3 separate regions of the Homo sapiens genome follow, and regions 2 and 3 are each linked to region 1. Evidence: fine-mapped expression QTL. A gene starts in region 1. Each other region holds a variant in brackets. All regions are shown on one strand. Distances are from middle to middle.

Region 1 (10,266 bases):
CTACTTGGGAGGCTGAGGCAGGAGAATGGCATGAACCCGGGAGGCGGAACTTGCAGTGAGCTGAGATCATGCCACTGCACTCCAGCCTGGGCGAAAGAACGAGACTCCATCTCAAAATAAAATATAAGATCCACATCTTGGTTGGGCGTGGTGGCTCACGCCTGTAATCCCAGCACTTTGGAAGGCCGAGACGGGCAGATCACGAGGTCAGGAGTTTGAGACCAGCCTGACCAACATGGTGAAACCCCATCTCTACTAAAAACACAAAAATTAGCCGGGCGTGATGGCGGGTGCCTGTTGTCCCAGCTACTCAGGAGGCTGAGGCAGGAAAATTGCTTGAGCCCGGGACACAGAGGTTGCAGTGAGCCAAGATCACACTACTGCACTCCAGCCTGGGTGACAGAACAAAACGCCATCTCAAAAAAAAAGATAAGATCCACATCTAATTTTATTGACACAGAAAATGTCAAGAACCCCAAATTTGGTTGGTTTGAAGAACATGTGAAGGGTTTGACTAGATGATGAATGTCAATATTAAATCAGCTGAAGTTTCATATACAAAATGAAGAGGAACAGCATTCAAACTTAGTTAAGACACAATTTCCTTGAGTGGCCAGGCATGGTAGTCATGCCTGTAATCCCAGCACTTTGGGAGGCCAAGGTGAGCAGATCGCTTGAGCCCAGGAATTCAAGACCAGCCTGGGCAACATGGTGAAACCCCATCTCTATAAAAAATGGAAAAATTAGCTGGGCATGGTGGTATATGCCTATAGTCCCAGCTACTCGGGAGGCTGAAGTGGGAGGGTCGCTTGAGCCCAGGAGGTCAAGGCTGCAGTGAGCTGTGATCATGCCATTGTGTTCCAGCCTGGGTGACAGAGTGAAAATGTGCCTTGAAATAAAATTTTCCTTTGAATACGGCTTAAGAAATATGGCCACTTAAAACTCTACCTTGAAAATAAATATAGATTTTATCTTATCTAGAGGTAGAGTGGGAAGTTTTCATTTGGTACATTAAATCTATAAGGCCATAAACAGGTAATATAAAAAGCTTTCATAATTCAATTTATATATAACATGAGAAGGAACTTCCAGGTGTTACTATGAATCTTCTATGTATAGTTACAGTCAATATACTTTATATAAGAGATAATTTTAATACCAATATAATCTAGATAACATTTTACTTTGTTATGTTATCATTGTTCTCTTGGGGAATAAATTTTTTCCTCTGAGGCTCTGGATTTGACATTGAATTTTGTGTGTACTAATTGACATGTGCCAGGGCAATGATGGACTGGAATCCACCCCCAAATCAAAGCATCATGGTAAATCTTGCTTATCCTTATAAAGTCAAATGATAGACATTTCCCATCACCTATTTCTATTCAACAAGAGCACCAGATTCAGTTAGCTAATCTGCTTCCAAAGAGTAGAACTGCATTGAGCTCAAATAATTTCAAAATACTGACTTTTTTTTATTTATTTATTTATTTTTTAGATGTGGTCTTGCTATGTTGCCCGGGCTGGTCTCTAACTCCTGGGCTCACACGATCCACCCACCTCGGCCTCCCAGCATGCTGGGATTACAGGCGTGAACCACCATACCCAGCCTATTTCTGCGTATGTTAAACATGCTTTACAATTTTAAAAATGAACTGTTTTGAAGGTAAAATTACAAATCTTGAAATTAAAAAAGCAAATATGTAAAGGAGCAAAAACTATAAATCAAACATTTGAGAAGAGAAAATTGGAGGCTAACTTGTATTAAATTCACAAAAACTTCTATACTTTCTGTAAATACTTTTTTAAAAAACTATAGATCAGAGGCTAGGCGCAGTGGTTCACGCCTGTAATCCTAGCACTTTGGGAGGCCGAGGCGAGTGGATCACTGAGGTCAGGCGTTCGAGACCAGCCTGACCAACATGGAGAAACCCCATCTCTACTGAAAATACAAAATTAACTGGGCGTGGTGACGCATGCCTGTAATCCCAGCTACTCGGGAGGCTGAGGCAGGAGAATCGCTTGAACCAGGGAGGCAGAGGTTGTGGTGAGCCGAGATTGCGCCATTGCACTCCAGCCTGAGCAAAAAGAGCAAAACTCAGTCTCACAACAAACAAAAAAACTATAGATCAGAATAACCACCTTTAGAACACTTTCGGTTATCAGTCAATATTTTTAGATAGAAGCTGGTAGTAAGCCTAAAGTGGGCTTAATTCTGCAGTAAACAACTGCCTCAACACATAGAAATCTTTTTTAAAATAGGCACTCTTGGCCGGGCGCGGTGGCTCATGCCTGTAATCCCAGCACTTTGGGAGGCCGAGGCGGGCGGATCACGAGGTCAGGAGATCGAGACCATCCTGGCTAACACGGTGAAACCCTGACTCTACTAAAAATACCAAAAATTAGCCGAGCGTGGTGGCGGGTGCGTGTAGTCCTAGCTACTCGGGAGGCTGAGGCAGGAGAATGGCGTGAACCCGGAAGCTGGAGGTTGCAGTGAGCCGAAATCGTGCCACTGCACTCCAGCCTGGGTGACATAGCAAGACTCCATCTCAAAAAAAAAAATAAAAAATAAATAAAATAAAATAAAATAGGCACTCTTGCGGGAGGTGGCAGCTCATGCCTATAATTGCAGAACTTTGGGAGGCCGAAGTGGGCAGATTGCTTGAGCCCAGGAGTTTGAGACCAGCCTGGGCAACATGCCGAAACCCCATCTCTACTAAAAACACAAAAAGTTAGCCGGGCGTGGTGGCACACACCTGTGGTCCCAGCTACTGGGGAGGCTGAGGTGGGAGAATCACCCAAGCCCAGAAGGTAGAGGCTGCAGTGAGCTGTGATCATGCCACTGCACTCCAGCCTGGGTGACAGAGTGAGACCCTGTCTCAAAATAATAATAATAATAATAATAATAATAGGCCCTCCTTGAAGTTTTTTGTTTGCACAGTCACACAGTGATGCTTAGATGTTCCAGTATCTAATATAGCCACAGTAGGCTGCAAGCAGTGGCTCATACCTGTAATCCCAACACTTTAGGAGGCTGAGGCAGGAGGATCACTTGAACCTAGGAGTTTGAGACCAGCCTGGCCAACATGGCAAAACCCCATGTCTAAGAAAATATATATTTTTAACTTTTTTAACAATATCAAAAATAAGAATCACATAAATAAACAGATTCTTCAAATTCTGAAAAGAGCCACAAAGCTTTATAAATTGTACAGGGGCATGAACTCGTAAGGTATTATAATTGCCTGGCACATAGTAGGCTCTCAATACATTTGCAAACTCCACACACACCTTACTTTCTTTTGCTTTATTTTTCTCTATTTATCTGCATTAACATGCTATGTAACACATAACTATACATTAACGTTTTACAAATTACAAATTTTTCTTGTTTTTTTTTTTTTTTTTTTTGAGACAGAGTCTCACTCTGTCGCCCAGGCTGGAGTGCAGTGGGCTCACTGCAACCTCCGCCTCCCAGGTTCAAGCCAGTCTCCTGCCTCAGCCTCCCAAGTAGCTGGGATTGTAGGCGCCCGCCACCACGCCCGGCTAATTTTTTATATTTTTAGTACAGACGGGGTTTCACCGTGTTAGCCAGGATGGTCTCGATCTCCTGACCTCGCAATCTGCCCACCTCGGCCTCCCAAAGTGCTGGGATTACAGGCGTGAGCCACCGCGCCTGGCCTTTTTTTTTTTTTTTTTTTTTTTTTTTTTCAGACGGAGTTTCGCTCTTGTTGCCCAGGCTGGAGTGCAATGGCTCAGTCTTGGCTCACTGCAACCTCCGCCTCCCGGGTTCAGGCGATTCTCCTGCCTCAGCCTCCCGAGTAGCTGGGATTACAGGTGCGTGCCACCACGCCCGGCTAATTGTTTGTATTTTTAGTGCAGACGGGGTTTCACCATATTGGTCAGGCTGGTCTCGAACTCGTGACGTCAGGTGATCCACCCGCCTCGGCCTCCTAGAGTGCTGGGATTACAGGCGTGAGCCACTGCGCCCAGCCCATTTTACAGACTTTTATTTTGTTCAGTTTCTTTATTGTCTTCCCAACGTCCCCCCACACACACTGCACTAAAATGCAAACTTCACGAAGGCAAGGAGGAACTTTTGCCTGTATTGTTCACCTCAGTGTCCCCAGAGCCTAGGTCAGTTGTTGGCATATTGAGGGACATTCAATAAATATTTAAGGAGTGAATAAACAATTGGATACCCAATAAATGCATGTATGAATAAACACATTCTTAGTTATTCGGAATATGAGGATTTGCGGAGAGTGGACAGCAGGGGATTGAGGAGACCGGCTGGGACTGGGAAATGGGCATTCGGGTCGCATGCCCACCGCAGTGGCCCAGAGCCCCTGTCCGGACCGCTAACAAGTTGCTTAGCAACCCGCCGCCCGGCCCTCGGCCACCGCTAGAGGGCGAGCGGGCGGGGAGACGTGCACGCGCGCGCGCGTGCGTGCAAGCGTGTGTGCGCGCGTGCGCGGCGCGGGCTTGGGAGGGAGCACGTCACTTCCTGTTGCCTTAGGGGAACGTGGCTTTCCCTGCAGAGCCGGTGTCTCCGCCTGCGTCCCTGCTGCAGCAACCGGAGCTGGAGTCGGATCCCGAACGCACCCTCGCCATGGACTCGGCCCTCAGCGATCCGCATAACGGCAGTGCCGAGGCAGGCGGCCCCACCAACAGCACTACGCGGCCGCCTTCCACGCCCGAGGGCATCGCGCTGGCCTACGGCAGCCTCCTGCTCATGGCGCTGCTGCCCATCTTCTTCGGCGCCCTGCGCTCCGTACGCTGCGCCCGCGGCAAGGTAGGGTCAGCGGGAAAACCGGGCACTTTCCACCCCCATACCGAACACGGCCGACATGGACCCTTCCTAGGCGGGACAGACACCTCTCCCCGGACACTGACTCTTCCCAGCCCTGATCACCACCGTTCCCTCTGTCTCGGGCCCACATTCCGGGGCTGGCATTTCCTACCCCGGGATCTGGGCACCGACCCCCGACCAGGGTATGATACCTTCCCCAATAGGAACTTGCTTCTGCTCCCGACCCGGACCCTGACACTTCCCTCCCTGTGCATCATGCCGCGGCTGGGAACGCTGTCAGCCCGTCCCCCACTGCGACTCGGGCACTGATTGTTCTGAGCCTGTTGGGCCCAGGCAGATCAGCCCCATCATGTATACCTGATGGATACTGGTCCTCACAACTTACTGAATGGTACAATTTCGTGTCATTCCCTGTTAGGAACCCTGCCTCAGCCCACCGCAGGGCCCTTTCTACCATCCAGACCCATCCCTAGACTCTGACTCCTGTCTCACTGGAATCTATGGCACCTTATGTGCTCACCTAGATCCCCCACACCTGGCCCTTGCCCCTGCCTCAAAAACAATGATCTCTTAGAGCCCAGTTTTTCACATCACTTTCTGGAACCATCCCAGTCAGCTGGCTCCTCAGAAGCTGGCATCTTGGTGCCTCTACTTTCCAACTAGGCATGGACGTCTTATTTTCCTGGTTTCCTCTCTTAACTACCATCCAACCTTGGACATGGCCTAGTCAAAACCTAGACCTTGTTCCTAACCTGTAACCCTTTTCCCACCCAGCCTTTGACCCTATCTCAAAGTAGCCCTTCTCCCCATACCCCCAAGACAATCCCCCCACCAAACTGGGCCTGTCTGCTGGGCCACTGTTGGCCCCTCTTGTGAGACTGGGCCAGACTCCATCCCTGGCCTTCCTCAACATCTGTCCTATTGGATAACTAGGAGGACTCCAGCACATTTCACCTTCTGCTTCTCCCTCCCCCTTCCCTGCCCCACTTCTTCCCTATATTAAGCCCTTTCTAGCCCGTTGTACCAATGACTTTTCACTTCCTGGCACCCTCTCCCTTCCTCCACAACCTCTTAATCTGCACCTTCCCGATGCTCCTCCCCCACCCAGACCTGAGGATGGACCTAAGTGGAAGTCTTGCCCAAAGAGGGCAGGCCCACAAAGCAGCTGCCACTTTTGAAACTGCTGAAGCTGAGGTTCTCAAAACACTACCCAACTTGAGCAGTAGCTGAGGCCTGCCATCTTCCTTCCCCAGGAGCAGAGAACTCACTACTGGCTCTGTATGCGATCAGATGCAAAGGAAAGTAGTTAGGCGGGGCTTAGGCTGAGAGACTCAAACATGACTCCATTTTCCTTTTTATTTGGCTTTTTCTAAGCTGAGTTCAGGTGATATTAAGCCTCTCTACTATGCCTGTCAGGTAGACACTTAGTGTAGAGAGCAGTTCTGAGATAACCCAGGACAGAGGAGGCGAAGGACAGCTGGCATAAGGCTAGGCAGCTTGATCTGAGCTGCTCTCCAAACTGAGTAATTCTCCCTGGCACCTTCTGTACATGGATCACTAATCTCTGCAGAAAACACCTTCCAGGCAACAGTATTTCCTGAACTTCCACCACTGTCAGGGGTAAGGGAGGATTGCTGCAAAGATGAGTAGGTCAGAGCCCTGTCACCAAGGAATTCGGGAGCGTAGGTGAAAGAATAATAACTAGATTGTGATTATACTACAAGCAATGCTACAAGGTTTAGGGAGAAAGATTGAGCACATCTGGGACAATGCAGGGAGGCTTTGTGCTAGAGGTAGGCCTGAGCCTTGACGTAGAGGTAGAATTTCAGCCAGGAGAAGGCATTCTAAGCAAAAGAAACCAGGTAAGCAGAGAGAGGTACGGAGGCAGGAGGCTACGAGGCAGTTCAGGAAATAGTGGAAGGTTTGGTGTGGCTGGAACAGAGGGTATGGATAGGAGAAAGCCTTAGCCTCTGAATACCTCTCCCAAGCATCTCCTGCAGGGCAGCAGGGTGTGGAGGACTGTATGAATTTACAAACAGGACCTGACCATTAAGAGCCTGCCACCACCAATGACCCAGATGCGGTAAAGCTTGCAAAACCTTGACGCCCTTTGATGCTCACAGCAACTGAGGTGGCAGGCAGAGCCAGTTTCATTATCCTCATTGTACAGGAAAAGAAACTGAGAGTCAAAGAAATGACTTCTGAAGATCACTCTGCCATTTAGGGGCAGAATCAGGTATGCCTAGTCCTCATCCAGGGCTCTCTCCTAACACAGGTACCTTTAAAGACAAGCAGCATTGACCTAGGGAAAGGACAGGGCAAATGACTCCCCTTCTACCCTGAGTCGTTTCCCTGGTCATGTGAAAAGGAGAGAGAAGAGTTAGTGTGGGGACCCAGTTTTGATTTCCCACCAGTGTTGGACCCCAAAACCAGTTGGGAGAGAGGGAATGTGAGGACAGAATCCCCAAGGGTCAAGGTGTCCATAACAGGCAGGGAAAATTGTGAAATCATGGAGAGAAAGAAGGTAGAGCCTCCAGGAGTATGTTGTGAAGAAGTAGCCTTGGGAGGAGCAGTCTCAGAGCAGCACCCATCACTGTCAGAGTCCTATATCCCAGACAGAAGCGAATATGACCCAGGCAGTAGCTGCACATTAAACATTGGTTTAAAGGGCCCTCAGCGAACAGGACTGGGTGCCTGCTGTGGGCTAGGCTCTGGGCTGGGTACCAGGAGTTCCGGGACAAAGAAGGCCAAGCCCTGCCCTCACTGAGCCCAGTCACCAAGGAGAAACAGACATGTGACTAGTCAAGTAAATAGAGCTCTGATAGGCCTCCTGGAGGGGGCAGCAGTTGTCTCTGCATGGATTGGGAGAGTCCAACAGGCAGAGCAGGAGAAGGTGGGGCAGGGGACCACAAGATGTGTTCAGGGAGGCAGTGAAGAGTGTGGTGTGAGCCCAGGAGAGGGGCTTGGATGTAGTGACAAGATGTTCAGGAAGCCCGTGGCCTTTCTGGGGAAGAGAATCCTGAAAGCAATGCAGCGGTTAATCGTATTGTTACAAAAATACTATACACTTGTTAAAAAAAAAAAAAATCAAGCAGTGCAGAAGTATAAAGGAAAAGCCTCCTGGGCACTATTCCTTGGAAGTAACCCAACTGGCTGTTGAGTATATAACCTTTGAGAGTTTTTTCTGTGTTTACACATTCATTGTATATGTGTCTGTGTATATAGACATGTAAATTTATTTTTATAAAAATTGGATTATATAGTACATATTTCTCTACAACTTGATTTTTTTTTTTTTTTGAGATGGAGTTTCACTCTTGTTGCCCGGGCTGGAGTGCAATGGCGTGATCTTGGCTCATTGCAACTTCTGCCTCCCAGGTTCAAGCAATTCTCCTGCCTCAGCCTCCCATGTAGCTGGGATTACAGGCTGGCACCACCACGCCTGGCTAATTTTGTATTTTTAGTAGAGACGGGATTTCTCCATGTTGGTCAGGCTGGTCTCAAACTCCCGACCTCAGGTGATCCACCCTCCTCGGCCTCCCAAAGTGCTGGGACTACAGGCATGAGCCACCGCGCCCAGCAATTTTTTTTTTTTCTTTAACAATATGTTGGCCAGGCACAGTGGCTCATGCCTGTAATCCCAGCACTTTTGGGAGGCCGAGGCAGGTGGATCACTTGAAGTCAGGAGTTCAAGACCAGCCTGGCCAACATGGTGAAGCCCCATCTCTACTAAAAATACAAAAATTAGCTTTGTGTGGTGGGGCACGCCTGTAATCCCAGCTACTCGGGAGGCTGAGGCACAAGAATCGCTTGAACCCGGGAGGCACAGGTTGCAATGAGCCGAGATCATGCCACTGCACTCCAGCCTGGTCGACAGAGTGAGACTCCATCTCAAAAATAATAATAATAATAATATGTTTCATTATTTTTCTATGTCAGTACATATAGACCTAAAGTTAACCAGACATGATGGCATGCACCTGTAGTCCTAGCTACTCTGGAGGTTGAGGCGAGAGGATAACTTGAGCCCAGGAGTTCAAGGCTGCAGTGAGCCCTGATTGCACCACTGGGCAACAGTGAGACCCTGTCTCAAAAAATATATACATATATATATAGAGAGAGAGAGAGAGAGATCTACCTCATCTTTTATGGTGGGGAGGGTAGGTAATACATGCCCATGGTACAGAATTCAAAAGGTACAAAGGGGTGCACAGTGAAAGTCTCCCTGCTACCCCAAGCTGCCCTATTTCCCTCCTCAGAGGCAGCCCCTCTCCTGTGTTTCTTAGATATCCATCCAGAAAGATTCTGTGTCTTTACAAATAAATAGGCATATACTTTTCCCTGATTTTTTTTGTTGTTGTTTTAATGAGACCGAGTCTCACTCTGTCACCCAGGCTGGAGTGCAATGGCATAACCTCAGCTCACTGCACGCTCCATCTCTTGGGTTCAAGCGATTCTTCTGCCTCAGCCTCCCGAGTAGCTGGGATTGCAGGCACCTGCCATCATGCCTGGCTAATTTTTGTATTTTTGCAGAGATGGGGTTTCACCAGGTTGTCCAGGCTGGTCCTGAACTCCTGACCTCAGGTGATCCACCCGCCTTGGCCTCCCAAAGTGCTGGGATTACAGGCGTGAGCCACCACGCCTGGCCAGTACACTCTTCCTTGCACCTTGCTTTTTTCACCTAATGTGTGTTGCAGATCCAATCATGTCAGTACATAGGGGGTGGGTGTGTTCTTTAACAGCTGTATGGTATCCCACTTGTACTCCAGTTTGCTTAGAATGCTAGTTCTCTAGTATCTGGTCCCTGGGCCAGCAGTGTCAGCATCACCCCAGAACTTGTTAGAAATGCACATTCTGAATCAGAAGCTCAAGGTGGGCCCAGCAATGTGTGTTTTAACAAGCCCACCTGGTGATTCTGATGCATGCTCAAATTTGAGAATTTGAGTCCCCAACTGGTCATTTAGGTTGTTTCAGTCTTTTGCTATTACAAACCATGCTGAAATTAATAACATTATACATTTTTATTTCACACTTGTCTGTGTATTTGTGGGATAAATTTCTCAAAATTGGTGGGTCGAAGGCTATGCACACTTTTTTTTTTTTTTTTTTTGAGACAGTCTCGCTCTGTTGCCCAGGCTGAGTGTGAGTGCGGTGGTGCCATCTCAGCTCACTGCAACCTCTGCCTCCTGGGTTCAAGCAATTCTCCCACCTCAGCCTCTTGAGTAGCTGGGATTACAGGATTACAGGCGCGCACCCACCACACCTGGCTAATTTTTATGTTTTTCATACAGATGGGGTTTTACCATGTTGGCCAGGCTGGTCTCAAACTCCTGACCTCAGGTGATCTGCCCGCCTTGGCCTCCTAAAGTGCTGGGATTACAGGCGTGAGCCACTGTTCCCAGCCCACACTTTTTATTTAGATAGATTTTACCATATGATCCACTATAGAGGTT
Region 2 (10,266 bases), 44 kb after region 1:
AAAACTAAGGCAGGTAAGTAACCTGTGCAGAGCACAGAACTAGGATTCAGACCTACAGACCCACAAGTCAGCCTCTAAGGCCCACTTATAACTGCTCTTCTGCTTGCAAGGCCCTATGGATGAAATCCAGTTATAACCTCCTTTTGCTATAACTAGACACAGAGGGAGGCGTTTCTCCCTAATCTGTATTTATCCAGACAAGCTGTCCAGCAAGATTTCTGAGTGAGGGGCTTTAAGGAAGCAATCTGCGGGTGTGTAGCCTTTTCTCCCTCAGCAAATACAGAAGGAGCTTATAGCCCGGGCTCACCCTGCTTCAGAACAAGGGCCAACATCTGTCCATACCCCTGTTATAGTGAGATGGGAAACCTTGTAGATGTTGGCACTGTGTGGCTCTTTTCTTTTATATACTGGGCTTTAGGGTCAATCCCATTTAACCAAAGGGTTCAATAGCTATAAAAAGGCGTTGAAATTGTATGGTTATTTGAGTTATAGCTCAGTAAAGGCATTAAATCTTCAGCCTAGATGACCCTATTCCTCCCCACTCTAACCAGCTGTGACTCCAGATGGAGACATTGCCCTGCATCCTCTCACGTCCCCATCCCCCACATCCCACCCAGAAACAAATGTGTGAGTTTCATACAACAAGAATGGGGGGTTAGGAGTCAAAGTAAGCTGGGAATACAAAAATGGGGCGGGCGTCTAAAATCCCAGCTACTCAGGAGGCAGGAGAATCACTTGAGCCTAGGAGACAGAGGTTGCAGTGAGCCAAGATCGTGCCACTGCACTCCCGATTACAGTCCTCATTGCCCTGGGCAATAGAGCAAGCCCCGTCTCAAAAAAAAAAAAAATACAAAGTAGGCCGGGAGCGGTGGCTCACGCCTGTAACTCCAGCACTTTGGGAGGTCGAGGCGGGAGGATCACGAGGTCAGGAGATCAAGACCATCCTGGCTAACACGGTGAAACCCCGTCTCTACTAAAAATACAAAAAATTAGCTGGGTGCGGTGGTGGGCGCCTGTAGTTCCAGCTACTTGGGAGGCTGAGGCGGGAGAATGGCATGAACCCAGGAGATGGAGCTTGCAGTGAGCCGAGATTGCGCCACTGCACTCCAGCCTGGGTGACAGTGCGAGACTCCGTCTCAAAAAAAAAAAAAAATGTAAACTGGGCTCCAGCTGACTCCTCACATTCCCGCCTCCCGCTTCAGTGGTGTTTCCCCAGGATCTGCTGGAGAAAGGCCTCGAAGCAAACAACTTTGCCATGCTGGGACTTGGAGATGTCGTCATTCCAGGTGAGCCTGCTGGTGTGGGGGCTATGTGAAAGGGGTGGAGAGGGTATTCCCCGGAGCAAGGGGATTACTGCTAAACAGACAGGCTTACCAGCTGAGAAAGAGAAAAGGTAAGGCTGGATCAGGCCAGGGATTGGTGAAGGGTTCCCCCTTAACATCCGTTTACGGAGGGCCAGTCAGGTGCCATGCCCCAAGCTGGGTCCTGGTCAGGTGTCAGTGAACAAGACTGTCTTCACAGAGCCTCTGGTCTAGGTGAGCAGATGTTGCTCAAGAACTACAAAAGTAAAAGTCTAATGACAGATTGAGGTACACTCTGAAAAAGCACGTTTCATGACAATCTTAACAGACTGGACCCCTGTCACACACACCCACACATACACATACCCCTTCCCAGCATCTGCAAGCATCACAGATGTACCAGAATTGCCCTAGCCCCCTTGCTCCTCCTCCCTGTGCCAAGACATCTCCAGGGAGAACACACACATGGGCTCCTGTCTGCACTCTCAGCAGAGGAGCATGTGCGTGCACACCTGCTTATCTGCAGAGGCTGGCCTTTGAGCCCCTGGATCTGCGTGTGGGTTCTAGTCAGTGTGTCTGTGGGTATGGACACGGGCCCTGTCCACAATCCAAGCAGGATAGCACATCCTGCGCAACCACAGCCTGGCCTCACTTTGGGGCAGGAGCAGCTCAAACTACCAGTCAGGAAAGAGACTAAGGGCAAAGCTGAGCTGCTGAAGTGGCTGAGGCTCGGGTGTGTCTGCTTATCTGGGCCCAGTTGTGGGGGCAGTGAACCCAAGGGACATACTTGTCTTCCTAGCCTCAGAGTGAGAGGGTTAGAAGCTTGCTTAAAAGAAGGTTTTAGCTGGGCACAGTGGCTCACACCTGTAATTCCAACACTTTGGGAAGCTGCGTGGGGAAGATCACTTGATGCCAGGAGTTCAAGACCAGTCTGGACAACATAGCAAGACCTCATCTCTACAAAAAAAAAAAAAAATTAGCCAGTCGTGGTGGCTCATGCCTGTAGTCCCAGCTACTCTGGAGGCTGAGGTAGGAGGATCGTTTGAGCCCAGGAGTTCAAGGCTGCAGTGAGCTATGATTGTGCCACTGCACTTCAGCTTGGGTGACAGAGTGAGACCCTGTCTCTTAAAGAAGGAGGTCTGGCCTGGGCAAATTGTGAGACCATATATATATATAAAATTATTATTTCTCCTTTTTTTTTTTTTTTGAGACGGAGTTTTGCTCTTGCCCAGGCTGGAGTGCAATAACGCGATCTCGGCTCACTGCAACCTCTGCCTCCCTGGTTCAAGCGATTCTCGATTCTCCTGCCTCAGCCTCCCAAGTAGCTGGGATTATAGGCATGCACCACCACGCCCGGCTGATTTTGTATATTTAGTAGAGATGGAGTTTCTTCATGTTGGTCAGGCTGGTCTCAAACTCCCGACCTCAGGTGATCCACCTACCTCGGCCCCCACAAAGTGCTGAGATTACAGGCATGAGCCACCACGCCTGGCCGACCCCGTCTATATTTTTTAAAAGAAGAGGAATTATTTTAAAGCAGCAGATTAAAGGCTGACTTACTTTCCAGGGTAGGATATTATAGCAATTCTGATCACCTAGGGTGATACAGGCACTTCTATTTGTGACAGTTGCATTTTGTGACACATGGAGGTGACACAGAGGCTTTCCCTGTTTTACCAGTGAGGAAACTGAAGCTCAGAAGTAAAGGGAATGATACAAATTCACACACTAGTAAGCAACAGGGCCAGGACTCAGACCAGCACTGTCCAACTGCAAAAAAGGCTACGCTGTCAGAACTGCTCCTTACAGCAGCACTAGCAGTAATAAGACGGTAATCACAACAGCTACCATTTATCAAGCACCTGTCGTGTACCAAGAATGGTGCTAGGTGGCCGGCCGGGCACGGTGGCTTAAGCCTGTAATCCCAGCACTTTGGGAGGCTGAGGCGGGTGGATCATGAGGTCAGGAGATCGAGACCATCCTGGCTAACATGGTGAAACCCCGTCTCTACTAAAAATACAAAAATTAGCCAGGCGTAGTGGCGGGCGCGTGTAGTCCCAGCTACTCGGGAGGCTGAGGCAGGAGAATGGCATGAACCCGGGAGGTGGAGCTTGCAGTGAGCCAAGATTGCACCACTGCACTCCAGCCTGGGCCACACAGCCAGACTCCATCTCAAAAAAAAAAAAAAAAAGAATGGTGCTAGGTACTTTTTATATGTCATCTTTACTTCTCCCAGCAGTCCAGTGAGATAGAGGGCATTTCCATTTTACAGATAAGGAAACTGAGGTTTGACTTGCCTGAGGCCACGAGGGTATGGGCTTGCACCCATGTGTCTTCATAATTTGCAGTGCTGTGAGGCAGGGAGACTTGCTTCCCCAGTAGAAGGCATCTCTGTCAGACAAAAGAAATGGAGTCCTGTAAAGCATCTGGCTCACTCTTAAGGGCACGGTCTGTCATTCACCCACACAAACTTCCCCTGTGTCCTTGTCATAAGTTCCAGGCTTGAGACAGGCACAGGACATCTCGGCATATCTGTCCTTTCCCCACCCTCTATATATATCCCCAGTAGTCCCGCAATCACAATAAATGTAAGTTGATCACAGTGGAGCGTTGTTTGGAAGGCCAGATGCACTTTAGGAGTGAAAATCCCTGGCAGAGCTCTGACCCCTGGATTAGTTGGAGAACACTCGTAGAAATCAGCCGCCAGGGGGCACTGAGTTCCCAGCTTGATTCCAGAATAACTGCAGTTGTCTGCTCTATCCCCAACCAACTCCCTACTCCTACAGAGTATTCATTGAGAACTAATTCATTTCCCTCTTTAAAATTAATCATATGTTGACAGTTGACAGGCAGTGCTTCTTTTTTTTTTTTTTTTTTTTTTTTGAGATGGAGTTTTGCTCTTGTTGCCCAGGCAGTGCAATGGCACAATCTAAGCTCACTGCAACCTCCACCTCCCAGGTTCAAGTGATTCTCCTGCCTCAACCTCCCAAGTAGCTGGGATTACAGGCATGTGCCACCATACCCAGCTAATTTTGTATTTTTAGTAGAGACGGGGTTGCACCATTTTAGTCAGGCTGGTCTTGGAACTCCTGACCTCAGGTGATCCGCCTGCCTCGGCCTCCCAAAGTGCTGGGATTGCAGGCGTGAGCCACCGCACCCGGCCAGGCAGTGCTTCTCAGCGCCTTCCTTCAAGTAAATGAGACTCAGAGCCCAGAGCCCAGTAAGGGAGGCGACACACAGGGTGTGCGTATAGCACAGGGACAGGACTGGTTGGCTGTGTTTTGGGGTTGCTTAGGCTTCCGGGATGTCTCTTTCTTTTTCTTTTTTCTTTTTTAGCAGAACCATTGCTTACAATTGGCTTGGTTTTCAAGTTTCAGAGTGCAGTGGGTGGACCGAGGTAACCCTCTCCTGTGCTCCTGTGGAGCCTTCAAATAGCCCACTGCTTGCCCCTCCTCCTCCCCCCTCCAGCCACGCACTGCCACAGGGGCCTTTTTCAAAATGTGTTTAGGTTGTTCTGCTCAGAACTCCTCCAGTGCGTCTCTTCACTCAGGATAAAGACCCAACTCCTCCCCATGGTCCTCGGGGCCCTGCAGGGCTGGTCTATCTCCTCATCTCCTGCCAGTAGGCAAGCTGCCTTAGTGACCCCTCAGTCCCTGCCACATCTCCTGAGCACTCTTTCTCCAGGACCTTTGCACATGCTGTTC[TCTC/T]CTCCTGGCGTGTGGCATTTCCAAGAAGCCTTCCTTCTTTCCCCTCCTTCACCCCTGCCCAGCCTAGGTCTCATCCTGTTACACCTTCTTACAACATGGGAAGCACAATTCTCCTGCCTCAGCCTCCCAATAGCTAGAATTGCAGGCGTGCACTGCCATGCCCAGCTCATTTTGGGGTTTTTTGTATTTTGAGACAGAGTCTCACTCTGTCGTCCAGGCTGGAGTGCAGTGGCGTGATCTCGGCTCACTGCAACCTCTGCCTCCTGGGTTCAAGCGATTCTCCTGCCTCAGCCTCCCGAGTAGCTGGGACTACAGGTGCCTGCCACCACGTCTGGCTAATTTTTGCTTTTGTTTTTTGTTGTTGTTTTGTTTTGTTTTGTTTTTTTGAGACAGAGTCTCGCTGTGTCACCAGGCTGGAATGCAGTGGCGCGATCTTGGCTCACTGCAACCTCCACTTCCTGGGTTCAAGTGATTCTTGTGCCTCAGCCTCCCGAGTAGCTGGGACTACGGGCACATGCCACTATGTCTGGCTAATTTTTGTATTTTTAGTGAGACGAGGTTTCGCCATGTTGGCCAGGATGGTCTGGAACTCCTGACCTCGTGATCCACCCACCTCTGCCTTCCAAAGTGGAAGCACTCTTTAACAGTCACAATCTCACAATGATTTCCGTGACTATTTGAGGTATGTCATAGTGTGGCTACCCTGTCCCCCTGGCTGAGCTCTGTGGGAGCAGCGATTTTGCCTACTCCTACATTTCCCATAGTGCCTGGTACATAGGCACTTGATAAGCATTTGGGCAGACACGGTGTGACATAGTATGATGCGGTGAGGTGCTGGGTCATTGTAGTCCCAGGCCAAAGCAAAATCCTGGGCCCCTCTCATTGTTCTAGGTAGAGAAATGGGACTTTCTGCTGTCACTTGAGAGTATTGGCCACACCCTTGGTCTCCAATGATTGCTCCAAGATGGAACACCAGGTTGGGGACCAGGACCCAGTCTCCTGTTAGTTCACTGCCCTGCTGCTTCCCTGCCACTCTCTAACCCCAGCTTTCTCCCACAGGGATCTTCATTGCCTTGCTGCTGCGCTTTGACATCAGGTGAGTGAGTGAGGGCCTGCCCCAGCATGGGCTTCTCCAGGGATTCTCCAGTGGCCTTCAGGAGCCCAGAGAAGGTACCTCAGGAGACCAGACCCTCCACCCCCACAGCAGCCAGAGCAATTCTGATTTTATCTGCATTTTGCATCTTGAAGTTCTAAGTATTTGAAGAGCCTGTGGTCAAAAAATTGTTTTAAGAATCATAGGCCAAGAGATTTAAACCCACAAGGGCCTGGTGGTACTCACAGTGCTTTCTCACTGTGTGACCTTGACAAGTGGCCTGACCTTCCTGAGCCTCTGGTTTCTCATCTTGAGTTAATAACAAGAGTTCCTACCATGAAAATCTGGAGAGAGTGCTGAGCACACACTGACCTCAGTCGCTCTTGGTTGAATCCTGGTTGCAGTCATCATCATCATCTTTTATCAGCCTAGCGTCAGGTCACCATGTCTCAGCTGCTCTAGCTGTTCCCTGCCCTCTCTTTACTCAGACATTTTTCAGTCTGTTGTAGACAGTGAGCACGAGGGGGAGAAGGTGGGCAACTTAGGTCAGCGTTTAAAACACAAGAAAGGTCTTATCCAAGTTAATGCACCTATGCAATGGGACTTGCCGTCAGCAGGGGGCGCCAGCAACAGCTCCATCATTTTATGCCCCGTCATCCCTGTGAGGGCTGGCAATGTTGCACTTAACTTTGAGGTGGTTTGTGAACTTCTCTTGATTTCCTCATGCCTGATAGTTGCAAAAGCAGTAATAACAGTGACAGTGGTAATGAGAAACTTACTACCAGCATCATTGAAATCCAGTTTCCATGTGAAACTTAGGTTTTTCCCACTCACATACACCTGGGTTATTTGTGTAGTGCCACTTCAAACCTTAGGAGCATATGGGCTCACAGTCACCTTTGGAAGAGACCTGGCCAGTCTGTAAGTAGAGGGATGTCTGTGCCAGCCGTCTCTACTCCTGGCTGTTCAGAGGTAATACAAAGTGAAACCCATAAGAAGCCCCCAGGCTATTTGCTGGAGACAGATTCAACTGCCAGCACCCTCAGAGACAGAGTCTCATTTTTTAGCCTGGGCTCACAGCATAAGCAGCTCCTCAGCTGATTTCCAGAATCAGTGCAACATTCCCAAAGGGAGTCACTTGTATCCCAGTTCTCAAGATAGGTGAGTTCTCAAGGTACTTGCAGCCGAAGGCTTAGAAGCACCCAGGACAAGGAGAGAAGGGGGTCAGAAGCACTCATTCATTCCACAAATGTTAATTGAGTCCATAGTACTGGCTGGGCACATCCCAGGTGCTGGGGACATGCAGAGGTTACGGAGCTGGCATTGGAGAGGGAAGTCACGTAATGGCAATGCCGGGCTGTATATGATTCATCTGTTCTGAAGCTGATCTTGGATGAATCACCTCCAGGAAGCCACTGGCATTTATTCATGCAGCCAGCATCTAGTTAGTACCACAAATAGGCTATTGAACTATTACGTCCACTGCACTTAAAAGTAGTAACTTATCTTTGCAGTTTCTGTATCTGTGTTTCTCAAAGCATGATCCAACGGTATGAGATTCACCTCAGATGTTTTTTTCAAAATGCAGATTCCTGGGCCCTGCTCTAGAGCTATTAGATCAGACTCCCTGGGGGTGGGACCTAGAATCCTGCATTTTTTCACAAGCTTTCCAGATGATTTTTATGCTGACTAAAGTCTTACAGCCACTGTTATAAGTTGCAGCATTTGATATTCATAACTACCAAGGAGATGAGCTCATTTTCCCATTTTGCAGATGAGTAAACTGAGGCTAAGAGAAGGAAAGCAACTTGTCCAGAGACACATAGCTGGGGGCAGTATCAGCGTGCACACCCACCTCCAGACTCCCAGCCCAGAGCTCAGTCACCCCCCCACAACCTCTAGGGTCTTCCCCAGCTCCCTCAGAAGGGGTATTACTAGTTCAGTCCCTATATCTAACCCTCCTCCTCTTTCTTCACACCTTCCCTGCAGCTTGAAGAAGAATACCCACACCTACTTCTACACCAGCTTTGCAGCCTACATCTTCGGCCTGGGCCTTACCATCTTCATCATGCACATCTTCAAGCATGCTCAGGTGGGCAGGACGGTATCAGAGTGTCAGGAATGCCTCACTGCAAATAGAGGGACTTACAGAGGGATTTATTTGTAAATGCAAGCAGTCCAGAGATAGGCACTCCCCACTGGTGTTGGAGCAGTCATGTCTGTGATTCTCTTGGCCTTCCATTTGTGGTTGCAAGATGGCTGCCACTGCTCTAGGCAGCATGGGCACGTTAGAGGCAAGAAGGAGGGAAAAGCGTAACAGCCATGCCTGCTGCCTTCATCAGGAAGGCAGGAACTTTCCCAGAACCCTTTCAGCATCTCATGGGCCAGACTGGGGTCCTAAAGCCACCCTGGCTACAGGAGAGTCCAGGAAAGAGGATTTGGCTTCTCAGCCTTGGTAGTGGGAAGCAGGCAGAGAAGAACAGGATTGGAGTGGGTGTTGGGTATTGGGGCGTCCCTCCCCCTACTCCCTAGTAGACCAGGCTCTGCCTCCTTCTCCCACCAAGATGAGGATGGAGTACTGAGCTGCCACAGAATGAAGCAACATAGCACAAAGACTGGGAGCCCTCAGTGTGGCCTGGAGAGGGGAAGATTCAGGGGAAAGTGAGCAGACAGGATTGCCCTACTTTCTACTGGAAATAATAAGAGCTCCTGTTTGTTAAGCACTTCCACATGTCAGGCTCTGCACTCATGAGGATCCTTGTGAACAGGTGGGGAAACTGGAGTTCAGGTGACACACTGCAAGTATGTGGTAAAGCCAGGATTCAAACCTGGGTCAGCATGGAAACCACACCCAGGCTCTCAAGCCCTGGCCATGGGAAACGCAGCATTGAACAGGGGCTAAGGGAGCCCTGTTGTGAATCCCAGCACCACCCAGTAACCATGGAACTCTGGGCTTGCTGCTTCTGTCCCCTTTCCCCTTCCCCAGGGCCCAAATACAGACGAGCCATCTTTGAATTAATCACAAAAGCTGGGGTTTTTTTAATCACTCTGTGCCAGGCACTGTGCTAAACTCTTTTGCTAATAACTCATTTAGTCCTAGTACAGTATTACTTTATAGAAGGTCAAAAGGCCCCTAGCCCATAATTAGAAAAACCAAGAACAACCATTGTGGAACTGCCTCTCACTTCTGCTCAAGGGCTTCAATGGCGTGTAAGGTGAGAGTAACATGCGTATGGCAAGGGTCACAGAGAGTGACTGGACCTGGTTTGGAGGACTAGTTAAGAGACCTTTTGGAGGTCTCTGCAGCTCCCGGCCCCTTATTGGAGTCCAAGCCCAGAGCCAATTCCCCCAGTGGCCATAAGGTGGCAGCCTCACCCTCTGCCTGGCTGGACTGAGAAGAGGCTCCCATTCAGAGCTCTGGCACACAGGAGTCCTCTCCTTTATCGGAAAACTGCAGCGCTGAGAGAACGCGAACACTACATCAGGCTGGGCCCTGGGTGGCGATCTGGACTCCAGACTAATGAACTCCTGAACCCTGCCCCAAGGCCTGTGTTACTCCCCAGCAGCAGCCCAGCCCTTCTCCCCAGTCATCCAAGTGGGTACCTCTCTGAAAATCCTTGGAAAGGGGATCCAGGACATGAGGGGACCCTGTCCCATGGGGTCCCCTGCTCTCCAACACACAGGTAGTCCCAGTGCTAGCATTGGTCTAGGTAAGGGTCACCTCTGCCTTTGTGCAGTGGTGTGATCTCAGCTCATTGGAGCTCCGCCTCCTGGGCTCAAGCAATTCTCCTGCCTCAGCCTCCCAAGTAGCTGGGATTACAGGCGTGCACCACCACACCCAGCTGATTTTTATATTTTTAGTAGAGACAGGGTATCACCATGTTGGCCAGTCTGGTTTCAAACTCCTGACCTCAACTGACCTGCCCACCTCAGCCTCCCAAAGTGCTGGGATTACAAGCGTGAGCCACCACACCCATCCTACTTAGGGATTGTTAGATTCAATAATTTAATATACATAAAGCAGTATTGATCACAGCCCACCTATGACAGATGGCAAGAAATAAGTCTGAATGTTAGGATCAAGGGCATGCGGGAAAGACTTCTTTGTTCTCTGGCCAAGGGCTGGCTTTACGTTAAGAATGAAGTCTCCGGCCAGGCGTGGTGG
Region 3 (10,266 bases), 54 kb after region 1:
GCCAGGCACGATGGCTCACACCCATAATCCCAGCACGTTGGGAGGCAAAAGCAGGTGGATCACTTGAGCTCAGGAGTTCAAGACCAGCCTGGGGAAAATGGTGACAACCAGTCTCTACAAAAAATACAAAAATTAGCCAGGCATGGAGGCGCACACCTGTAGGCCCAGCAACTTGTAGGACTGAGGCGAGAGGATCACTTGAGCCCAGGAGGTCAAGGCTACAGTGAGCCATGTTCATATCACTGCACTTCCGTCTGGGAGACAAAGTGAGACCCTGTCTCAAAAAAAAAAAAATTGCTGAGGAATGCTGTGAGGGAAATTAGAGGGACTTACAGAGCACGTAGCAAGGGACCTGACTCCATGTGAAAGAACTCAAGTGCACCAGCCTGGCCAACATGGTGAAACCGCATCTCTACTGAAAAATACAAATATTAGCCGGGCATGGTGGCGCATGCCTGTAATCCCAGTTACTCAGGAGGCGGAGGTTGCAATGAGCCAAGATCGCACCATTGCACTCCAGTCTGGGAGACAGAGCAAGACTCTATCTCAAAATCACAAAAAAAAAAAAAAAGAAAAGAAAAGAAACTCGGCCAGGCGCGGTGTCTCACGCTTGTAATCCCAGCACTTTGGGAGGCCAAGGCAGGCAGATCACAAGGTCAAGAGATCGAGACCATCCTGGCCAACACGGTGAAACCCTGTCTCTACTAAAAATACAAAAAAATTAGCCGGGCATGGTGGCAGGCACCTGTAGTCCCAGCTACTCCGGAGGCTAAGGCAGAAGAATGGTGTGAACCTGGGAGGCAGAGCTTGCAGTGAGCCAAGATCACACCACTGCACTCCAGCCTGGGTGACAGAGCCAGACTCCATCTCAAAAAAAAAAAAAAAAGAAAGAAACTCTTTGGGCTGGGCGTGGTGCCTCAGGCCTATAATCCCAGCAATTTGGGAGGCCGAGGCAGGTGGATCACCTGAGGTCAGGAGTTCGAGACCACCATGGCGAACGTGGTGAAACCCCATCTCTAGTAAAAATACAAAAATTAGCCAGGCGTGGTGGCAGGCACCTGTAGTCCCAGCTACTCAGGAGGCTGAGGCAGGAGAATCGCTTGAACCCTGGAGGCGGAGGTTGCAGTGAGCCAAGATTGCACCATTGCACTCCAGCCTGGGCAACAAGAGTCAGAGACTCTGTCTCAAAAAAAAAAAAAAAAAAAGATTTGGGTCTCTGAGTCCTGGGCTATTTTCCCTCTCCTTGTGAAGCATTGGTCTTCCTCCTCTGCAAAAGGATAACCATCATGGGATGTGGCAGTGGGCTGACTTCCTGGGAAGGCTAAGCTCAGTGCCTGCACAGTAGATGTTCATGAACAGGGTCTTAGTATAACCGTCCTTTTCTCCAAACCCAGCTTTACCAGGAGTCTCAGCACAGACATGCCAAATTGCTTGGGTGTGAATCCTGGGGGAGCCAGTGACCAGCTAGGTCACCTTAATACAGGCTGCAACAAGTAGTTATTACATAGCAGCTGTGGTGTCATCATCACTATAATAGCATCTCCTGGAGCATTTGCTAAAATGCAGGTGTGAGCCCCAGACCTCAGGAAGCAGAGTCTCTGGGAGTAGGACCAAACCAGGAAGTTGCTTTTTGAACCTGGTGACCTAGGTGATTCAGATGCTGCCAGCCAAACCCCTGGGAACCCTTGAAGCCCTGCCTACTTGAGTTTCTTAGTTTTCTTGCATTCCCTCTCGGGAGGAGCAACCCTTGTCTGGGAGTTAGGAGCCCTGGGTTCAGGCCCAGCCACTGACTTGCTATGGTCCTGGACCAGTCACTGTCCTTCAGTCCAGCCCAGAAGGGGTTTGGGGTGCTGGGCACGGCCCTGAGGCAGTGCCGTGCCCAGCATGGCTTCACCAGCCTGTGTCCTCTCATAGCCTGCCCTCCTATACCTGGTCCCCGCCTGCATCGGTTTTCCTGTCCTGGTGGCGCTGGCCAAGGGAGAAGTGACAGAGATGTTCAGGTAAGGCAGAGTGGGGGGCAGATGTCCTCATGGGCACCAGTGTGCCTGCTGGCAGTCAGTGGAACCTGCTGGGGGTATCTTTACACCTCTCCAGGGGAACATTGTTCCTGCCACCAGCCCCACCCCTTGCCTTTTTCAGCAGTACATGGGTACCTGGCCTGTGGACACCAGTGGGAACCTTACCCTGGGCCAGGAGCCAGGGGAGCGCAAGGCATCAGAGCCCTCTAGGCATCCCCCATCCAAATGTTAGCTGGATCTTAAGAATAGCTGTTGTGGATTTTTCTCTGCCTACTGTCAGAAGTCCTAGGTGACTCTGCCCCCAGGTGACTTCAGGCATGTCTTCCCCTCCCATGGCCTCAGTTTTCACATGTGAGTAATAGAACAGGGGGCGTGTGGGATGCCCTAGTGTGGTAGAAAGTGCCCCGAGTAGAAGGCAGGTGTCAGTCCCTGTTCATTCACCTCTGTGGCTTTAACCCACAGCTCACTGCTTTCTCTATATCTGTATCTCACACAGATACCCCTTCCCCAGGGCCATATCCACACCTACCACACCCTGCACACAGCCCCACCCATACCGCAAGGCCTGCGTGACTCCAACAGGTGTCTGCCCCCAGCACTGCCGACCCTGCCTGCCAGGGACCTAGAAATAGCTGTCAGTTGCGATTAAAGCTGCCTACTCGGGTGCCTTCCGCCCAGTTCCACCTGCCTGGCCTCCAAGCTGTCCCTAGAGCGCTTGCCAGGGCCTCCTGTGCACCTGGCTCCCCGCAGGGGAGCCTGTGACTCACCCCTCCCCCGGACCTGCCTCTGCCCTCCCTGTCCTGTCTAGAATCCCCAGCCCCCCGCCTGCCTGCCCACATTGCCTCGCCCAGCAAAGCTCTGTGGTCTGAGGCAAGTGGGGGCTAGGGGTGAACTTGGGGACAGGTCTCAGGGAGCTTTGGGAGCAGGCATGGCACCCGATCCCTGAGCTTAGCACCCATCCTTCACCCTCCCTCTGCTTCCCATCCAGCCCAGGTTTCCCTGCCCCTCCCCTTGGGGTAACCACCCAATGCTATTGTGCCCTCATCAGGCAAAGCTCTGAATACACAAGGCAGAGGGTGCCCCTGGCCTTTACCTGCTTGGTGCTAAATGCTCTGCCATACAGGTACCCTGCCCCCACTGTTTGCCCTCCACTCCCACCCTGGACATTCTTAGATTGGGGTAAAAAGCAAGTGATCTCTCTCTCTCTCTCTCTCCCTCCTTTCTCCCCATTTCTCTCCCAATTCTCCACCTTTTTACTTTTCCCTTCTATTCTCCTCCTTTTTTTATTGATTTACTTATTTTTATATTGGTACCACATTCACATAGTTAAAAATTCCAAAGCTGTAACAGAGAGAGCACCCTCATGCTCCAGCTACCCCACAGAGGCCAGCAGTGTTACACAGACATTCAGACACCTGTGCACTGATGTGTGTATACTTTTTCTTGCACAGACGGTGGCATTCTTGGAGCATTCTGCACATTGGGTTTCTACGGTATTTCTTAGAGGTGTTTCCACAGCAGCACATACACTTCTAGAGCATGCTTGTTCTTCTGCACAGTGGCCTGATGTGCCTTTGTCTAGGTGCATCTTTCTTTTTTCATTCTCCAAATAATATCAGCTTCTTTCCATAAAATCTGGAAGTGCAAAAATAGGTAAAAACAAGACAGTTCTGCTCTCTGCTCCTTGGAAAGGAAGTCTCTGTCCTCCCTTAGTCTTTCCCTATCCATCTCTTTTTTTCTGTCTCTTCTCTCTCTCTCACACAGCTACGAGTCCTCGGCGGAAATCCTGCCTCATACCCCGAGGCTCACCCACTTCCCCACAGTCTCGGGCTCCCCAGCCAGCCTGGCCGACTCCATGCAGCAGAAGCTAGCTGGCCCTCGCCGCCGGCGCCCGCAGAATCCCAGCGCCATGTAATGCCCAGCGGGTGCCCACCTGCCCGCTTCCCCCTACTGCCCCGGGGCCCAAGGTAGGGCAGACACTGCAGCTCCAGTGCATAGGGCAGGGACCATTGCCAGGAGTAGGCCGCAAGAGCAGCTCCTCCACAACCACCAGGCAGTGGTTGCACCGAGCCATAGGGCTGGGAAGCAGGACAACCCCGAAGCTTCCTGCCCTCACCAGTAATGCGGGGCCCACATCATAGTGGATGGAAATGGCCCTTGTCATGCAGTAGTAGATACTGTTACCATTCAAGGTATATGTATAACCTTAGGCAAGTTACTTTCTTCATCTGTAAGTGGGCACATTCCTGCCTCACGGGGTTTATCTGGTGAGGAAAGATTTGTATTATCTTTGGCATGAACTCAGTTGCTTGAAAAATGAAGCCCATAGAAGAAGCTAAGCCAGGGTGTCTGTCTTCAGAGCAGCACCTTGCCGCTTGCCAGTACAGCAGTGCCCTCACCTCTGGGGCTGAGCTGTTTGATTCATGCTGTGTGCCCTGGGAGGCAGCCTATCTCCATCTCTTGTAGCCTTGTCATGGCCACCCCTTTTTCCACGCTACAGCAGAAGGTTCAGGAAGCTTGAAATCAGCCCACACAAGCCCAGGCCCAACCTCTCTTCCATTGGCTGCTGCCCTTGCTGCCTCCTGGTACCCCCAGGCTCAGAGAAAGCAGAGCAGCCTGCCTGAGGAGGGCATGTGGTAGGGCTGGGGCCAGGCGCTGTTAGGTGCTGGGCAGTGGACACAGGGCTGACGCTCTGCATGTGACCAGGCGCTTTCCTAGGATGGGGGTGGGGGAAGGGGACAACCAAGGTTCTGCTCACCCTCTCCTCTAAATGAATTTTTATTGTTG[T/G]TTTTTTTTTTTTGGTCAGTTATGAGGAGTCAAATCCTAAGGATCCAGCGGCAGTGACAGAATCCAAAGAGGGAACAGAGGCATCAGCATCGAAGGGGCTGGAGAAGAAAGAGAAATGATGCAGCTGGTGCCCGAGCCTCTCAGGGCCAGACCAGACAGATGGGGGCTGGGCCCACACAGGCGTGCACCGGTAGAGGGCACAGGAGGCCAAGGGCAGCTCCAGGACAGGGCAGGGGGCAGCAGGATACCTCCAGCCAGGCCTCTGTGGCCTCTGTTTCCTTCTCCCTTTCTTGGCCCTCCTCTGCTCCTCCCCACACCCTGCAGGCAAAAGAAACCCCCAGCTTCCCCCCTCCCCGGGAGCCAGGTGGGAAAAGTGGGTGTGATTTTTAGATTTTGTATTGTGGACTGATTTTGCCTCACATTAAAAACTCATCCCATGGCCAGGGCGGGCCACTGTGCTCCTGGAAGATTCTCTGTTTAAGCACCCAGTGTCTTGCCCTGGGTTTTCTAGGTCTCACCTGCCCACCCAAAATCTTTTCTGCAAGCCCCTTAAGGGTGCCCACCCCAGTGCCTGGCCAGCCCTGCACCCGTAAAACACCTTTTAGCCAGTAGAGGGGGCCCACGAGCCCTCTCTCACCAGCTAGCACTTTTCTCACCACCTTCCTCGAAATACTTGGGGGCAGCAAGGGTGTTGGCAGATGAGAGTCTCCCACTCACCATGGTGAGAGTGGTGGGGAGTACCCAGGGCTGACCTGACTCACAAGGGAAGCAGTAACTGTAGAACCTGCCAGCCTCCCTGGTCCCTGTGCCCATATGGCTTCGGCTGATGAGGGCTCAGACTCTAGGTTGCCCTGAAGATCAAGGCTTTGTCTCCCATTCTGCCCATTCCTGGGTTTCTTCCCAAAATGACTACTGTGGGGCCAGTCATGGCACAAGGGCCAGGACCTCTAGAGGCTGGGGTGGGGAAGGACTGAGCTAGTGATTCTTAGAGGCCTTCTGGGGCCTAAGAGCTGAAATCTCAGCGCCCGGGTTTCCCTAAAGTTTGCTGAAGACAGCAGCCCCGGCCAGCAGGAGACCGACCGGGCACCACCCCAAACCAGGCAAACGGTGGCCACAACCCTCATCCACCCACCTGGTATGAGGTCACTGAGTGGGGAAACAGACAGGAGCGGGTGGCCACCATACTGACAGACCCGGGGCTCTCCCTTGCCCAAGCTTCAGGTTCAAAGGCTGAAAATAACAGTGGCTTCCAGTTTGGAAGTGGCCAAAGGACAATCATGACCAGAGACTCAGGAGTATGACTGTAATACCCTCACTAGGTATTGACATGCACTAAGCACCTTGATATAGGATTTCACTTCCTTCTGAGTCTTGGGCTGTATGTGCTATTATTCGCTCCGCTGTGCAGATGAGGGAATTGAGGCAGCTTGCCCATGGACATCGATTTGACCTTAGCCAAGCCAAACAATTCCAGGTTCCTAAGGACCGCAGCTCCTCCCCAGACCCCTGGGACCAAGTCACTGGCTGGTGTGCTGGGCATCCCTGAGCCCCAGCCACCCAATTTTACTGGCTCCAGGGTTCTATAGGAAGGAAAAGGGGTAGAAAATTTCAAAAGGCTTCTTCCTTTCAGGGAGGGGGGTTCCCTTTCAGGGGCTTCTGGAATCTCTACCCACTCCAGCCAACTCTGAGGCCATGTGGTCCTGGAACAAGGCCCCTCTGAGGCAGATGGGGCAGGCGGCCCAGGCACATAGCATGGTTGGCTCTGCGGCCCAGGGCGCACAAAGGCCTTATTGAGTCACCACCAGCCCCCGGCAGAGGCTGAGGTGGCAGTGGCGCCGAGCGCCTGCCACCTAATGACTGTCCTGGTCCAGCCAGATGTTCCACAGACCTCCGGAGCAGCGGACTAGGGCCCGCCCGGCCAGCCGGCACCGCAGAGGCCACTGTAATTCCAATTAACCAGCTTCAGCTGAGCAAACAGCGGGCAGTGGTGGCCCAGCCCAGGCGGTAGGCCTGGCCCGCAGAGCCTGCGAGTCTAGACTCCAGATGTGAACCGCCACCATCAGAGTCCCATGGAAAAATGGCACCAGGCCGGGCAAGGATTGGGCCTGCATGCTGGGGAGGGGGTGTGGGTGGTTGGGCAGGGCCCCGAGTGGGCTAGATGCCAGCCTCACCTGGTTTGGGGTGGATTATTAGGAAACTGCTCTAGAACCCAAGTTCTACCCTGCTTTATTAGATTCTGTTTCTGTGCCTCAGTCTCCCATGACTGCGACAAGAGAGAGGGTTCCAAGGGGAAAACCAGCCCTGCTGAGACCCCAGTGTGCACTGACTGTATTTCACGTGACTAGCATTATGCTAGTGCAACTGACCCTTGAACAACACAGGGATTAGGGGCACCAACCCATCATGGTCGAAAATCTGTATAACTTTTCAGTCCCGCAAAACAACTAATAGTCTGCTGTTGACCAGAAGCCTTACCTGATAACATAAACAGTCAAAACATCTTGTATGTTATACGTACTACACTGTCTACCATAGAGTAAGCTAGAGAAAATGTAATTAAGAAAATCCTAAGAGCCAGGCATGGTGGCTCATGCCTGTAATCCCAGCATTTTGGGAGGCCAAGATGGGCAGATCAGGAGGTCAGGAGATCGAGACCATCCTGGCTAACATGGTGAAACCCCCGTTTCTACTAAAAATACAAAAAATTAGCCGGGCATGATGGCAGGCGCCTGTAGTCTCAGCTACTCGGGAGGCTGAGGCAGGAGAATGGCCTGAACCCGGGAGGCAGAGCTTGCAGTAAGCCGAGAGAGGCAGGCGGATCACAAAGTCAGGAGTTCGAGACCAGCCTGGCCAATATGGTGAAACCCCGACTCTACTAAAAATACAAAAATTAGCCTGGCATGGTGGCAGGCGACTGTAGTCCCAGCTACTCAGGAGGCTGAGGTGGGAGAATCACTTGAACCCAAGAGGCGGAGGTTGCAGTGAGCCAAGATTGCACCACCGCACTCCAGCCTGGGGGACAGAGTGAGACTCCGTCTCAAAAAAAAAAAAATTATTCAGTGAAAGTGGATCATCATAAATAAAGATCTTCATCCTGGTCTCTGTGTTGAGGAAGAGGAGGGGGTTGGTCTTGGTGTCTCAGGGGTGGCAGAGGTAGAAAAAAAGTCCACGTTTAAGTGCACCTGCACAATTGAAACCCGTGTTCAAGTTTCAAATGTATCTTAAGATTTACTTAATCGTTGTAACAACACTTTGAGGTACCTACATCATTCTTACGATGGGGAAACTGAGGCAGAGACCGTAAGGGCGGGCCCAGGGGGCATGTGAACCCAGAGTGTCTGGCTTCCAAGACTCGTATTCACCGTGGTGCCGTTTGACATGATCAGGATAATGGATCCCTGGTTCCTTTTGGGGGCAGCATTGGAGAAGGGGGTTTGGCACCGTCAGTCTGACAGCAGGGCTGGCTCCTGCAGTGTGAATGAAGCGGTCTTGTGCTCGACTGTGAAGGGGGGTTAGGACCTGCTTCCCAGGGCGGGTCCAGCTTTCTGAGGGAAAGCCTTCAGAGCCTCCATCAGGCCGGCACCAGGTACCAGTTAAGCACTGGGCAGGGAACAGAAGTGGTCAAACGCCGCTTGCCGCGACTTGAAACTGCTGAATAAATGGATAATGTCAAGCGCTATGGCTTAGGGCAGTAGTACCTCCGGTTCCTACGATCGTGTCTGGGGTCCCTGAGGAGCAAGGCAAGAGTCGGCCATTCAGGAGGTCAGAGTTCAGCTGTTCTTGCACAAGCAGGGAAGCTGAGTCACCCCAAACACGGGCAAGACTAGCGGTGGTATCAAATGGCTATCAGGGGCGGGGCCTCAGGGGCCTGCCCCTGCCTCCCCGCCCTGCGTTTGGATTCCCTCCAGCATTCCGGGCCAGGGCGCGGGAGGCGGAGGCCGAGGAGAGGACGGGAGGAGGCTGCATCCTGCCCTGGTGCGTCAGGAAGGGCCGAGCGAGCGGGAAGGAAAGCACCACCCCCCACCCCCGCCGCGGCCACACCTGGGTTCTCCAGGCGGGCAGGGGGGCCCCCGGGCCGGCGCCTGGCTCCAGCAAGTCTGGGCCGCCTCCCCGCGCCGCCCCGCGGGGGCCGCCAGATGGGCTGCCCGCCCGCCAGCTCAGCGACGCAGGCAGGAAACGCCGGCCGGGCTGCCAGGAACGCGCGCAGGGGAGGGGGCGGGCCCGGCCGGGCCACGCCCGCCGGAGGGGAAGGAGGGGCCAAGCACCGCCCGGCGGGGACTGGTGAGCTCCAAGAGCCTGCGATCCCGGTCCCTGCCTTTACTAGATGGGTTTCCTTGGGTAGGTCGTTTTACTTCTCTGTGCCTCACTTTCCCTACCTGTAAAGCGGGGCTGCCTGTCTCCGCTCTTTTTCCCTTTTCTCTTTTATTTGTGCAGCAGGGTTTCACTCTGTCGCCCAGGCTGAAGTGCAGTGGCGCGATCACGGCCCACTGCAACCTCGACCTCCTGGGCTCAAGCGATCCTCCCACCTCAGGTGGGAATATAGGTGTGTCCCACCACGCCTGGCTTTTTTTTTTTTCCCCTAGTTGAAACGGCGGTTCTCACTCTTGCTCAGGCTGGTCTCGAACTCAGGCTCAAGCAATCTTCCCACCTCGGCCTCCCAAAGTGCTGGGATTAGAGGCGTGAGCCACCGCGCCGTGCCTCAGCTATTTTCGTGTGACCGTGTGATCTCAGGACACTTTCTTTCCCTTCTCTTCCTTGGTTTTCTTACCTGAAAAATGGGGTGAACAATTGAACCTCCCTCAACCATGGGCTAAGCCTTTGTTTTCCTCTCCACCGTAGCCCCAACACTTGGCCCATTGCCTGAAACATGAAGGCACTCAGTATTTGTTGTAAGAGTGACTATAAAGGTTTGGGACAATCCTGAGGGCCTGGCTACAGCAGGCACTTCATAAATGGACACAAATTATCAAATTACCTAGAGTCTAATGTTTACCAACCTGCGGCTTCAGGCAAGTGACTTCCCATCTCTGAGCTTCACTTTCCTCGTCTACATAATGGCTGTGAGGATTAAGTAAAATAAATAAATACATGGAAATCACACATAGTGTGTTCTCAATAGATATTTATGGAAGAGTCTCCAAAATATTAAAAAAAGGGAGATACTATTTTGAGTAAATTTGAGGGCAAGGAATATACAAAGGAGTTAGGTGGCTTGGAAGAAGATTTTTGCTATATATGTAAACTAAGCTGTGTGTGGGTGGGTATTTTGCTTGTTGGTTTTTGAGACAGGCTCTCACTGTAGTCCAGGCTGGAGTGCAGTGTGGCAGTCATAGCTCACTGTAACCTTGAACTCCTGCACTCAAGCCATCCTCCCACTTCAGCCTCCTGAGTAGTTAGGACTACAGGTGCGTGCTACCACACCCTGCTCACTTTGCATTTTTTTTTTATTTTATTTATTTAT

Alleles and levels. Alleles are on the strand shown, and positions count from the first base shown. SD is a standard deviation of normalised expression in the study named. Not every link is listed here.
With allele T in place of TCTC in region 2, the expression in whole blood of the gene that starts at base 4,503 in region 1 is higher (moderate effect, 0.52 SD a copy in GTEx).

Evidence for each region.
Region 2: its variant is fine-mapped to the expression of HM13 in whole blood (GTEx, PIP above 0.99).
Region 3: its variant is fine-mapped to the expression of HM13 in whole blood (TOPMed, PIP above 0.99).

What each region holds. Positions count from the first base shown.
Region 1 is chr20:31,509,940-31,520,205 of GRCh38, forward strand. HM13 (histocompatibility minor 13) reads left to right here and starts at 4,503. Exons shown (of 13, transcript NM_178581.3): 1 at 4,503-4,795. The coding sequence starts at 4,613. It also overlaps the pseudogene CD24P3. RefSeq lists a silencer at 5,100-5,169.
Region 2 is chr20:31,553,544-31,563,809 of GRCh38, forward strand. HM13 (histocompatibility minor 13) reads left to right here. Exons shown (of 13, transcript NM_178581.3): 8 at 1,203-1,286; 9 at 6,068-6,104; 10 at 8,091-8,193. Among named protein-coding and RNA genes, the nearest start is that of MCTS2, 11 kb to the left of the region's middle. RefSeq lists enhancers at 1,207-1,706, 7,042-8,241. The variant TCTC/T (reference allele first, on the strand shown) is at 5,006.
Region 3 is chr20:31,564,296-31,574,561 of GRCh38, forward strand. HM13 (histocompatibility minor 13) reads left to right here. Exons shown (of 13, transcript NM_178581.3): 11 at 1,915-2,000; 12 at 3,783-3,929; 13 at 4,825-5,248. The coding sequence ends at 4,924. It overlaps HM13-AS1 (HM13 antisense RNA 1), which reads right to left and starts at 8,968. Exons shown (of 3, transcript NR_046853.2): 1 at 8,847-8,968; 2 at 8,504-8,628; 3 at 3,292-3,653. LOC107985416 (a long non-coding RNA gene) reads left to right here and starts at 8,715. Exons shown (of 3, transcript XR_005647051.2): 1 at 8,715-9,143. RefSeq lists enhancers at 1,493-2,368, 2,369-3,244, 2,518-2,657, 8,325-8,866 and silencers at 5,311-5,605, 8,668-9,247. The variant T/G (reference allele first, on the strand shown) is at 4,806.